Homo sapiens: one gene and its partner. The protein of the gene in region 1 interacts with the protein of each later gene in a biochemical or structural test. Each region holds a gene or a part of one and is shown in the gene's direction. Other genes may lie near its edges.

The links. The genes of interacting proteins can lie anywhere in the genome.
Region 2: the proteins of PFN1 (region 1) and RHOQ form a complex in vitro, tested with the Homo sapiens proteins (one study listed by BioGRID).

Annotation. Positions count from the first base shown.
Region 1 is NC_000017.11:4,946,564-4,950,313, reverse strand, and holds the start of PFN1 (profilin-1), read left to right. Parts: upstream 1-1,783; 5' UTR 1,784-1,919; coding exon 1,920-2,051; intron 2,052-3,493; coding exon 3,494-3,686; coding exon of another isoform or gene 3,687-3,750. UniProt on the Homo sapiens protein: Binds to actin and affects the structure of the cytoskeleton. At high concentrations, profilin prevents the polymerization of actin, whereas it enhances it at low concentrations. By binding to PIP2, it inhibits the formation of IP3 and DG.
Region 2 is NC_000002.12:46,545,359-46,549,108, forward strand, and holds part of RHOQ (rho-related GTP-binding protein RhoQ), read left to right. Parts: intron 1-3,750. UniProt on the Homo sapiens protein: Plasma membrane-associated small GTPase which cycles between an active GTP-bound and an inactive GDP-bound state. In active state binds to a variety of effector proteins to regulate cellular responses. Involved in epithelial cell polarization processes.

The DNA of each region.
Region 1 (3,750 bases):
TCTTCCGGCGCCCCACTTGTAGCACTGCGGGGAGGTAGGTCTCTGCCCTCGGTAGAGATCTCCACTTTGCCGGCTCTGGGGCCAGTGCGGGGTCTGCCCCGAGCTCCTCTGCAGCCATACCAGCCGACCGGCGGGGGACACACGGCGCCTCGGCCCGACTCGGAGGCCCTTCCCGTCGGCGCCGGGGCAGCGCGCGCCCGGTGACTCACCCCCGCCGCCCTCTCCCCACCCCTGCTCCCCGCCCCGCCGGCCCGCGCGGCCTCCCAGCCCCCACCCCAGGCCACCTGCCCCGCCACCCGTCCAGTCTCCCCTCTCGCCCCGCCCCCTCATCTCAGGCCGCTCCTCCCGGGATTTTTCCACCCTGGGGTAGGGGTGCGGTGGGCCAGGGGTCAGGAGATGGCGGGCGGGGAGCGCCGCCACGTGCCCGGGTGCGGCCCCGCCCGAGCCCGCCAGTGACTCAGCCGCGCGGCTGTCGAGGAACACGGACTCGAGGGGCGTCGGGGACTGTGGGATTCGGCGTGGACGCCAGGGATGCGCGCCGCGCTCGGGAGGAGAGAGAAAACCAACCCCCTTTCCGCCCGGGCCGCGCTCGGTGACCCCTTGCCCCTAGCCCAGGCTCCGGAAGCCGCCCAGCCCTCGGCGGCGGGTCGGAGGAGGCGGTTTCACCGCGGCCGCCGCACGGCCGTCCCGCCCGTCCCGCCCTCCCCAGGTGGCTGTGAGCGCACATCTGACTGCGAAGAAACCCAAAGGGCCCGAAGTGGGACTTTCCCCTTCTTGAAAAAGTTGCCACTCTTGCAACTTGAGTATTCTTCCGCCTCGAAAAATAGCCCCGCCTGTTAAGCCCCGCGGGTGTCCGCGCTCTGTGACCTCTGCAGACACAGGCCAAGGGGCACGGCCGGTGATCCAGACATTGCCTGCCTGGGGCGGGCGGGGCTGGGATGTGGGGTGAGGCCCTGGGCTAGAGCCGATCCAGAGAAGGGACAATCCTCTAGACTGAGAATGGGCCCTGGTGAACCCAACCTGCACGACCCGAGAAGACGCTGGGGACAGAAGTGGCCCCGGTGGGTGCCTTCAGCTATGAGAGCGACTAGAGGATTTGGCCAAACTCTTCTTTGCTTTCTTATTACTTGAATAAGTAAAATCAAGGGTGGTGAGGCGGCAGCGCGCACGGCTTCGCCCCCGCCCCTTCCGCCAGGCGGGAGACACGTCCCCAGCCCGCCTTCCTTTCCCGCAGGGTCCACACGGGTCGGGCCGGGCGCGCTCCCGTGCAGCCGGCTCCGGCCCCGACCGCCCCATGCACTCCCGGCCCCGGCGCAGGCGCAGGCGCGGGCACACGCGCCGCCGCCCGCCGGTCCTTCCCTTCGGCGGAGGTGGGGGAAGGAGGAGTCATCCCGTTTAACCCTGGGCTCCCCGAACTCTCCTTAATTTGCTAAATTTGCAGCTTGCTAATTCCTCCTGCTTTCTCCTTCCTTCCTTCTTCTGGCTCACTCCCTGCCCCGATACCAAAGTCTGGTTTATATTCAGTGCAAATTGGAGCAAACCCTACCCTTCACCTCTCTCCCGCCACCCCCCATCCTTCTGCATTGCTTTCCATCGAACTCTGCAAATTTTGCAATAGGGGGAGGGATTTTTAAAATTGCATTTGCAAAGTTCGGTGTCTGGGCTGGCGAGTGGGGGAGGGAGGGAATGGGGAGTAGGCCCCGCCCCTACCGTCCTTTGCAAATAAAAATCTAGCGGGGCGGGGGGGGGGAGGAGCAGGAAGTGGCGGTGCGAGGGCTGCTGCACAGCGAGCGGAGCCGCGGTCCGGACGGCAGCGCGTGCCCCGAGCTCTCCGCCTCCCCCCGCCCGCCAGCCGAGGCAGCTCGAGCCCAGTCCGCGGCCCCAGCAGCAGCGCCGAGAGCAGCCCCAGTAGCAGCGCCATGGCCGGGTGGAACGCCTACATCGACAACCTCATGGCGGACGGGACCTGTCAGGACGCGGCCATCGTGGGCTACAAGGACTCGCCCTCCGTCTGGGCCGCCGTCCCCGGGAAAACGTTCGTCAACATCACGGTACTGCGAGGCCTGCGCGGTCCGGGGCACTGCTCCGGTTTGGACCCTGAGGGAGGGACTTGGGTGGGGGCGGGCGCGGTCTAGGGCGCGCAGCGAGAGGCCCTGACTGGGTGCTTGCCCTGGAAGCGGCGCGAATGGCGGCTGCACGTGAGTGGGTCCCTCAGTTGCCCGTAGGTCCTATGCCCCAGGCGGCGGCGCCCATCCCGCCCGCTACCCCGCTTTCCGCGACGGGGCGTTACATCCGGGGCACAGGGCGGGGAGGGGCGCGGCGCCCGGTGCGGCGGCCCACTTCCGCCTCTCCCAGGGCGGGGCGGGGACGCGCCTCAGTTTTTACTGGGGATTGGGATTGAGAGGGGACCCGGGGATCCTTGGACCCCCAGCTCCCCGTCCGGCTGCCAGCCCGCGTCCCTCTACCATTGTTTCTCCTGGTGCGGAAGGGAGCCCCAGGCGCGTGGTCTTGGTCCCTTGCCCACCCTCTGTGGGCTTCTGGCCCCTCCTAACTCCGTTAGAGAGGGCGAGGCCACCACACGCCCCCCCAGCTCAGCACGTTGGATTCAACATTCCTGCGAGGCCAATCCCGGAAGTCCCCTCGCCCTCCCTTCCCGCCATCCGGCGGGGCCTGGAGCAGGGGAACTTTGTGAGAAGTTCTGAGACAGCATAAGCGAAAGTATATTGGTTTACTACCGCTGCTCCCACCACCATCTCCCTGTCCACACTGCCCGGAAGTGGGGAGGGGGAGCGGAAGTTCAAAAGGGGGGGGAAGGGGGTTTCCGGGCGGGAGGGGACCGGATGTGGGGGCTTGGGGTGAAAGGGGGAGGGGGGAAAGGTTCCCGGGGTACCTAGACCCGAGAGCTGGCCTGCCGGGTCTGGCCCCTGTCCACCTTCAAAAGTTTTCCAACTTTCCCGGAAAGCCCCCAGGGGTCTGCTTCCTCATCTCAGAGCAGAGATACCTGGAGCTAAACTCTAGGTTACTTGGAGACCCAGGCGTCCGGGCCCTAACAGCTCCTGCAGAACCTTTGACCAAATAAGGGCAAAGTTGCTTCTCTTGCCTCGCCCGCCCCCCTCCCTTCCCCTCTCCGCTTCTGCTTTTCCTGAAGGAGAGTTCTGAGCATCCAAAGGCTCCTCACTTACCTCACTGACTCCCTTTATTTCCTGGGTTTACTTTCCCCATTAACACTGACATCTAAATCTCTAGAGGAGTATGTCATCCCTTCCTCCCTGGTTCCATATTCTAAGTTTCAGAATCATGATCTTTTTCTGCACTAACGTCCCACAGTCCTCAGAGTTTCTCACAGTTCATTGATGTGTACTGAGTATATAATTTATACTTAGCCCCCACGGCGGGGTGGTTCTCAGAAGTGGAAGACAGGTGGGTCTTTGGAGAACACGGTGGGAATCTTGGTGCACTGACTAACTTGATGGGCGCTTGGTTCCTCTTCCAGCCAGCTGAGGTGGGTGTCCTGGTTGGCAAAGACCGGTCAAGTTTTTACGTGAATGGGCTGACACTTGGGGGCCAGAAATGTTCGGTGATCCGGGACTCACTGCTGCAGGATGGGGAATTTAGCATGGATCTTCGTACCAAGAGCACCGGTGGGGCCCCCACCTTCAATGTCACTGTCACCAAGACTGACAAGAGTGAGTTCCTGAGTCTTACCCTTCCTTTAGCTCCAAGATCTCTAATGTACCGCCTTCTGGTAAT
Region 2 (3,750 bases), on another chromosome or scaffold:
CTTTCTCTTATCTCCTTTACTTGTGACCATGATAATTTTTGACCGCACTCCCTGTTCAACAGGATGTGTGTAGTCAGAGCTGTTCTGAGTATGTTTAAACCCTGCTAGTATTTACTGAGTTTTTTCCTACATATGGGGCCAGAGGCAGACACATGCAAATATTATTTTATTTAGTCCATAAAACAACCCCATGAGATAGGTGGTATTTCATCTTTGCGGTGAGGAAACAGGCTCAGAGAAGCTAGGTTGCTTGCCTGAGGTCACACAGCTACTGAGGGGTGTTGCTAGGATTGGGACAGGGGTCTGAATCTGCTCCAGTTTGAAGTAGTTATACACACAGGACACCATGGGAATGCTGAGATGCCACGGGGTTGATTGGATTGTTTGTGCATCCATAGTTGTGGTACCTGTAATCTTCACAGCCATTCTCTGAGTGGGTGTTGGATGGCACCTCTACAGAGGAGAGAACTTAGATCCAGAGTCACTTGAAGTTGACCCCACTTACAAAACCAGGGCTTTCCATATATGGCCGTAATTACTCTTTTTAGTGGAGGATCATAAGATATAGACCAAGCAGGATGAACATATTAGTAAGGCTCAAATACTACTGTTTTCACCCAATGCTGGACACCATTGGTGGGGCCTAGATGTGTGTTAGGCCCCATTGGTGTTTTTCCCAGTGTCTAGACTTTTGTTTTTGCATCAAAGCTAGTAATATTTCATCTCCCAGCATTTGAGGGTTTATTACTAATAAGCAACTTAGCAATGATGAGACCAAATGGCAAGTGCCTGCTGTGTACCTGGTACTATGTCCAGGTACTTTTGCACCTGGGGAGTGCAAAGGAATGAATTTAAAATGGGGATCTACCACAGCTGATGTCAGCAAAGGGAGAAATGTCTGTCTCGGGTCTCTGTTCATGTGTTACATAGGAGATCTCTACATTGCACTTGGTCATTAAGACCTCAGGCTTCTAGGAATCCATATCAGATTTGTCTTACAATAATAACAATGATAAATAAACATGTAAATAAAAAGTAAATAAAAAACATTAAGGGTTTATATATATATATATGTATCCGTATACACATATACATATATATATATATATATATATGTGTATATATATATATATATATATATATATATATATATGTATATACATATATATATATACACAAATCCTTAAGCCTAGTGGGCAGCAGAGAAAGGTCCATGGGCTTTGGAACAAAACAGGCCTGGGCTCAGATCTCCACCTTAGCTAGTCATGTGATTCTAGCTAAATTATTTACCTTTGTGATCTAGTAAAAACGTGAATAATTAGAATCTGCATTACAAGGTCATAGGCTGGCTTAAACTCTTTAACATATTTAAAAGCAGCTGATACTTTGTGCATAGTGGGTGAGTGACAAATAGTACAGGAAATTATTATATTCCACTATGGGGAGTTTTGTGGGGAGAAAGGTTCACAGAGTGGAAGAGAACAGTATATTGTGCCTGGAGTTGATAGAAATTCCACTAGAATGCCAGATCCTAGAACCTTTTCAACCAAGGTGTGCAACAGCTTTGCGCATTGTAATTCCCATAGTCCCTATTGTGGGATCCATGGTTCCAAGCCCAGTGCTCCCTGCCGTAAATGCCCTGTTGTATCAGATGGTTTTCTGTCTTAAGCAGAGCCCGTATCCCCATTGATAGAAGAGAAATAGCTTAGAGTTCCATGCAGAATTTGACAGACAAGTAGGGTATGTAGGCTTCAGTTGGTTCTACTTTCAGAGAGTTAAGATGGAATGAGGCAGCTCATGGCACTACAGGTCAGTTGCCTTCTCTCCAAAATGTTCACTCATGCATGTGGGCACTCATTGTATTTGAATAACAGCAACAGTGCCTCCCTCAGTTTGGAACCTCTAGTCCACTTGCTCACTCATGGTCCCTGCCTTAACCCCAGTCAAGTTCAAAGCCATAGGCATCATTTGTCCGACTGACATATTAGGGCATCTACCAGTCAAAGGGTGATTGTTGTAGATGACCTTTGGCCTTCTAGAGCAGGCTGCTTTCCACTTGACCTCTGCTGCTATTAGCAGACAAAGAGAGAGAATGGGAGAGAGAGTGTATTGGACTTCAGTCCCCATCATGTGCACTGCCTGGGGACATCCCAGCACACTCAGAGCACCACTGCCAAAGGGAACACTTCCCCTCTGTTGGCCAAGCCCATGGGTGGTCCAGGAGCAGCTGTCACATTTTGACTGCCAAGCATTTTGGAGTGGAAGTTGACCGAGGCATCTTCCTTCTCACTAGGGGCCTTGCGTGTGTTTTGGGGGTGAGGGGTTGGCTTCCTGCCTGGGCCTCTGTGGAGCTTCTCCTTTCTTGCCCAGCCTTCAGGACTTCAGTGTAGGCTCTGCAGCAACCCCATTGTCTGCTCAAGGAGGGACTGGAGAGATGGGATTTTCCCTCCTGCTACTGCACTGTTTGGAGCGATGGGAAGTGGAAAGAGCTCTCCCTCTCTGTCCAGACAGGCCAGTGGGGAGCTGCCTGGCAAGCTGCTCTCTAGCTGTGGGCTCTAGGCTGATCTCTTAATCCTTGGCAGGAAGGCAGAACTTGATACCCTGGAGAGGGAAGGACTGAAGCCCAGTTTATTCAGGTCCCAGAATATCCACACTCAGGAGGATGTGTGTTGGGGGTGAATTTGGGATCCCTAGAGTTCCAGATTTAGCCACTGTCTCAGTGTGTGGAAGTCAATTTGTGTGCTTTGGGATGTATTGTTTCTATGTCTGTTAACTTAAACACACAAGTTCAGGGAAGCGTCCATGACAGCTATAAATATCTTTTACTCTGGTGTCCCTTGGTGTTGCTTTTTCAATGACAAGTGAGATTTGTTTTACACTTGATATAACCCAGCAGCTGTGGCTGCCCTGCATGCCCTCTGGGTGCCCACAAGGCACTTCCCCTACAGAAGGGAATCTCCACCGGAGGCAGGCTTGGCATGCCCCACCTTCTGCATTTTAGCAGAAGGGCCTGGCATGATGAGAAAAGGGAAGGAGAAAGGGCCATGGGATCACCACTCACCAGGCTCCTCCCACCTCCAGGCAAGTCATCCTCACAACACCCTTCAAGGTAGACTTCTCCCAGATGAGGAAATTGGGAACAAGTGGGCTTATGGGAACCAGACAGAGATGTGATTAGGAAAAAGGTTTTCTACTTTGGAGAAGGCCTGCAGGGAACATTAGTAGGGTTTAGGAAATGCCACTCACAACATCAGACTCTGGGTCCTTGTAGCCCCGTGTTCCATCCTTGCTCAGCCCGGTGAGCAGAGCCTGGGAGGAGCCCCAGGGTTCCTTCCAGGCATCAGCTGCAACAGGTGAGATGCTGGCACTGAGCATCCTGGTTTCCCTTAGTAACCTACTGTAGATTTGTCATGTGTGCATTTTGCTAACCTTTTTAGAAGCTATTTATATCTCTAGCCCACACCGCATCACACGGGAATGCTGGTTTCCTCCTCTGCGTTGGGAAGGTGGATAGCCTTTGTTGACTCCAAAGCCTTTGCTGTGTTCGCTCCAAAGTCTGAATGCCCTGTGTTCCCCTCCTTGGGACTCTGATGTGGGTTTGGGTTATGCCAGCTTAGACTGTGGGCTGGCAGGCAGGGACTTTAGGGTGGGGGCAGTCCCCACCAGCTCTCGTTGGTCTACAATTATGCCTCATAATCGGGCACATAATCTGTGCCCCATCCCCATCCTGGACCTTTGATCTGTTTGGCT